2 separate regions of the Homo sapiens genome follow, and region 1 is linked to region 2. The links come from fine-mapping of genetic effects on gene expression. A gene starts in region 2. The other region holds a variant in brackets. All regions are shown on one strand. Distances are from middle to middle.

Evidence for each region. PIP is the estimated chance that this variant, and not a neighbour inherited with it, causes the effect. A credible set is the group of variants that fine-mapping cannot tell apart.
Region 1: its variant is the best candidate, but not a certain one, in a credible set for the expression of HMGCLL1 in gastroesophageal junction (GTEx, PIP 0.77).

What each region holds. Positions count from the first base shown.
Region 1 is chr6:55,461,508-55,464,428 of GRCh38, reverse strand. All of the region lies in intron 7 of HMGCLL1 (3-hydroxy-3-methylglutaryl-CoA lyase like 1), which reads left to right. Among named protein-coding and RNA genes, the nearest start is that of HMGCLL1, 120 kb to the left of the region's middle. The variant C/T (reference allele first, on the strand shown) is at 1,101.
Region 2 is chr6:55,577,924-55,580,844 of GRCh38, reverse strand. HMGCLL1 (3-hydroxy-3-methylglutaryl-CoA lyase like 1) reads left to right here and starts at 1,653. Exons shown (of 9, transcript NM_001042406.2): 1 at 1,653-1,897. The coding sequence starts at 1,790.

The DNA.
Region 1 (2,921 bases), 120 kb after region 2:
ACAGAAGCCTGGCAGTAGAAACGGCCTTTTAAACTCAAAAAATAATTAAACCACTAAAAGTCACATTAGTTAGTGTTATGGTTGCAGGATAGAATTTTTACATCTTTCACTTTTTCCTTTTCAATATGATTTCTACTTGCAACTAGGAGTCTAATATTTTTATCTAAAATAATCTTGTGAGATTTTTTAAGACAGTAAATTATCTTTATAAAAATCTATGACATAGACAGATTTAATTATGCTTTCAGTTGATATTGTACATTAGTAAATTAAGAGAATTAAATTCTCTTGGAATTTAATGTTAATATTATTCACAGCTATTGTCCTTCAACATGCATATCTTTCAAAATGTTAATTCTAGATAATTCTACAGAGCCCCTTTACCAATTTAATATTTAAAATTCAAAGAGTATGAACAAGTGAGGAATGAAACAAGCTATTATCAAAATATTTCAGTCTAAAGCGTTGGGTGGTTTCTGGACTTCTACCTGTTTTATATTCTCATTTTTTCTTCCTATTTTTTTTATGATTCTGTGCATACAAAGTATTGCCCTGGAGGTGAGACTTAAAACATTCAAAAGAGGTTGAAAATATTTTATTCTGAAAGTATATCCCAACTATTCTCTCAGGAAAGCAGGAATACGTGGAGCAGAAAAACGGACAGCTCAATCAAAAACAGAACAACAAACAAAGCTCACTTTCTTTCCATGATTATTCCATCTGGAGAGATGCCTAGGGGTTACTAGATTTAGGAAAAGAGGAAAGTAGACATTTAGTTTCAAATATGTAAATGTCTGCAGTTGCCCCAATGTTTGAAGCCAAAAATGTTATATTTGTATTATTATATTTTGAAGCAGTTGTATTACAATTTATTTCACTTCAGGAGGCTCTTAGGAAATTTGTATATTTTAGAATAACTTTTCTGGAATATTCTCTTTAGTAGAGAGTTCTAAAGAAACCTGAGGCATAAGAGTAAATAACTTAAATCATGAAATATAACATCTTTTAAAATTTATTTTTAAATAACCATGCAATTTTCACATTGTAAGGGCCACTTTTTCATGTATCATTTATCTCTCTTCTCAGCTAAAGACTGGGGC[C/T]GGGCACAGTGGCTCACTCCTGTAATGCCATGACTTTGGGAGGCCGAGGTAGGCGGTTTGCCTGAGGTCAGGAGTTCGAGACCAGCCTGGCCAACATAGTGAAACCCCGTCTCTACTAAAAATAGAAAAAAATTAGCCAGGCATGGTGGCATGTGCCTGTAGTCCAGCTACTCGGGAGGTTGAGGCAGGAGAATTGCTTGAACCCAGGAGGCGGAGGTTGCAGTGAGCCGAGATTGCGCTACTGCACTCCAGCCTGGGCAACAGAGCAAGACTCCATCTCAGAAAAAAAAAAAAAAAAAGAAAGAAAAAAGAAAAGATTGGACTCAACACCAAAAGCCCAGCATAACTCCTTTGTGAGTTTTGACCCTACATATTGTTCCAGTTCTGGGGCGATTCCTTGTACCTTTCATGCACAACTTTCCTTTACATAAACGATGTTTTTAATTGTGATGGAGTCAGTGCTGTGTCTACACGTTCTGCAGTTAACTACTCCTGAGAAGCCTATTGACTGAAATGTATAGCAGCAATATACTACCTAGAAAACTGATATATGTGAGTTATACCTACAACATAAGAAGTTTGTATAATTAGTTTAATAGTAAGTGGTGTTCAAAATAATTATTAGACCTTTCTATGGCAGCTTACCTAAGCACAGGTAAAGATGGCTGGCATTTTCATTAAATGCTCTAAGTCTAATAATTATTTGCATGCTCTAGGTTAGATACGTTTAAATAATTTATAAGATTCTATTGGCACAATATATATGGATTATGTTTTGAAACTTAAGTCTCTAGAAAAATTAAAGTCTCTAGAAAATTTAAATTTAAATTTCTGGACAAATTAAAATCATGCAGTTGTTATTCCCAAAATAGGGTGTGAAGGCAGATATGTGAGGGAGAGAGGTCATGGGGGCAGGGGAGACAGCTAAGATGTGGTATAATTGAGAAAGGGAACAAACCCACGGACTGAAGACATGAGCATACATGGTGAGCATAGGAAGGAAGGAAGTTATTTCGTATGTAGTTGCAACAGATAAAGATGAGAATTTTAAGAAAGGGAAGGTCCCAAGAGAGCAGATGGCAGCATTTTAGACGAGGAGTAATTCATGTTTTAGAAAGGTAAGCATAGAGAAGGAAAGCAGTCTTTCTTACCACATTTCCACATTTATGAGGTATTGTCATATAGTCTTCCTTATTTATTTATCCTAATTTTTGACAGAATTTGGCATTAGAATTACCCAAAAACCCCATAATCGCATGAATATATGGCATATCTGATGGTCTGGAAAGATTGTTTGGTGTTGATTTGCTGTATTTGGTAGGAATGTCATTTATATGGACCACAATGAATCATATGACCCTACTGCCATATTAGTTAACAATCAACCTGAATTATATTCTTTTTTATTTTTTCCTGCTACTTAATTGTCTTCTTCTAAAACTAGAGATATTATTGTTTTCATTAGCAAGGTGCTATTGAGTAGTTCTTCACAGGTATATATTTTGGAACATCCAGAGTAATCACTTTTTTATTGACTATCTTGAGTACTTTTTAGTTTATTTCAGTCTAAATAGTCAAATCAAGTGTACCTACATTTAAAATATGAACTATTACTTTGCTTATATCTTGATCTAATTTCATGGTGCTTTAAGTTCTGATAACATCATGGTTACCTTGTCTTGTTTACAGGATGATTTTAATTTAAAATGAAATACCAAAAACAAACCAGTTTATAGCCGGTACATTTACTAGTCAAAGCAACTTGAAAAATAAGTTAGTTATATTCTTGTTCTTACCTTATTCCAAGTATTCTGCCTAAAC
Region 2 (2,921 bases):
CACCTATATGATAGTCATGCTTAGGTAAATAACAACCGGAGTTTTGGTGCTTTACAGAGTTTTAAGCGCATCCAGGAATTGGATAACTTCACTTTAGCAGTTCAGGGAATGTTCTCCAGGTTAAACATCCGGCTGGGCGCGGTGGCTGACCCCTGTAATCCCAGCACTTTGGGAGGCCGAGGAGGTCAGACCACGAGGTCAGGAGATCGAGACCATCCTGGCTAACGCGGTGAAACCCCGTCTCTACTAAAAATACAAAAAATTAGCCTGGCGTGGCGGCCGGCGCCTGTAGTCCCAGCAGCTGGGGAGGCCGAGGCAGGAGAATGGCGTGAACCTGGGGGGAGAAGCTTTCAGTGAGCCGACATCGCGCCACTGCACTCCAGCCTGGGCGACAGAGCGAGACTCCGTCTCAAAAAAAAAAAAAAAAAAAAAAAAAAAGAAAGAAAAAAGAAAAAAAAAATCCTTGGTTAACTGTGAGAAGAAGACTATGACCTCCTCATCCTCTTTGCCCTTTCTAGTGCAGTTTTACCGAAGGATCTACACGATTTCTCTTCCACTCTTTGTCTTTTTCCTCCCTTAACCCATTTATTTTTATTACCTGTGGAAGTCTCACTGCCCACCCCCCAAACCCCCACCCATGCAACACACAAGTGGTAAGGATGGTTTGACTTTGAATGGTAAATTTCTTCTGTGTGTTTATACTACGGTGTGCATCGGTTGGCTCCTGGTTTACATTTGCTCCATCAGCCACCAGGGCTGATGCGTATTCCTGGCCATGGACACCCTGGCTGGGTCTCCGGAAGACCCTAGGTATCCTGCACGAGACTATTCTTGATGACTATGTCATTTTAGCTGCAAACCACTGAACCCACTGCGAAGATTATTAGGGTGTGACAATACACGTAAGTTTACATGTGAAAGTGAGGGGGGGAAGGTAGGCCGGTGGTCTGCTCGAAGGCTATTTTTTCAAACCCTCTCTTCCACTAAAAATGTCTCCAATTCTAATATCCTAAGAACTTGTATAGAATTTTCCGTTTGGATAAATCTAGTCCTTAGGGCTTTAATAATTTTGTGCCATGAGACTTTTAAACACGCAGTTCCATTTCAGCGCTTAACCGCAGCACCAACTTACAGCTTACCTCTCATTTAGGAACGTACCTCTGAGAGTACCTCTGACATGTAACCTAATTTAAGACTATCTTTTCCTTTTCATTAGACTGTTGGATATGTTTTAACCTTGCTGATTGCCTCAAAAACATTTTTAAATAGAGCTTATTGTTATAAAGCATAAACTCCGTGAGCTCAACGGTAGGCAAATCTACACTTGAGCACCCAAGGCTGCAGCTGGGAATGAACGAACTCATCAACATAAACACTCACGCCCCTTCCTTTTATTTTAGACCCCTTTTCTTCTACACCTGATCTATGCCAGGTGAGAAGTAGGTGGGCACGTTAAGATACAGTCAGCCCTGGGCGCTCAGTGTAGTGCGGAAAATGAGACACCCCTGGACATCCTCTGGCTCAGCTCCTTTCTCTCCTGTTCAGGTGCTCGGCATTTCTGTCGATTCCCGCAGGTGCCCCGTGCACCCGCTGCCCCAGGCGCGGCCACCTGCCACGCCCCACTCCCCGCCCTCTCGGCGCCGCCGCAGTGCGCAGAACAGCTCTGGTCCTCACAGCCAGTGCACCGGAGGGGCGCGCTCCCGAGCTGGCGCAGTTTCCCAGCGCGGTGCCCGCCCCTCATCCTCCTCCAGTCTCCCTCCCCTCGCCGACTGCCGCCCCAGGCTCCGCCATGGGGAATGTGCCATCCGCGGTGAAGCACTGCCTCAGCTACCAGCAGCTTCTCCGGGAGCATCTCTGGATCGGGGATTCAGTGGCAGGGGCGCTCGACCCCGCGCAGGTACCACCTCGCGGCCCAGGGTGTCCCCACCCTCATGCGCACACTGACAGCCAGCCTCTCTCCCTGCAACCTCTTGGTGCCCTCCTCCCTTTATGTCACCTCCTCACCCCAGGACCCTTCCCGCAGCAGTTCTGTCGTGTTAGGCCGCACCCCTTAAACGGTTTCCCGTTATCTCTCTTCGGTGAATGTATCGACCCGCCTCTACAGATCAGACCCTGCAAAATCCCTGCCTGTGACCATTTGCTGGTCGCCTAAAGAAAAGAATTCCTTCTCTGTGTTTTCCTGGAAAGGGATGCATTACGTAATACAATTTGTATTCATAGGTATTCCTTCAAGGATACCGCCCTTATTCTCAGTGCTCCTTGTACTGTGTAACAAAGACTACAAATTTGTCACAATGTGAGGCAGAAAAAGGAATGAAACCGGTAGAAGGTTAAGAAGACATAGTAGGATGAAATAATCCATCAGAACATTAATTATCCCAAATGTATTTGTGCTTCAACAAACTTGAAAGAAAGTGTAAATAACAGCAATTTCAGACTAAAATTTATTCCCACATTGTTCCTGAAAGGGCATGTTAAGACAATAGGCAACTTAATATTATTCATATACTTATGATTTAATGCACTCTTAACCAGTGTCAGATAAATAAAGAAAAGGTGTATAAAGAAATTAACTTTTTCCTTAAAAAACTTGAAAATCTAAAATTCCACAAAATATTAAATAACTGATAATTGTTATGAAAATGTTGAAACATGGAATAAAGGAGGAGCACTGTGAGGACTTCTTGTTAAATTACAGGTGCTGGATACAAGATTATTTCTGATTCGACTAGTGAACAAAATAACTTCTGTTATTGTAATATTTTAGTCATTAAGCATAATTGTACCATGTGGATTTAAATCAACTATTCTAATATAAAATATTCATTTTCTATTGTGTATTCTCAGTTTAGTGTATCATATGTGAAATTGCAATCTTATCTTTACAAATTGGAATTCAGCATTTGTGTTCTTTAGAAGAT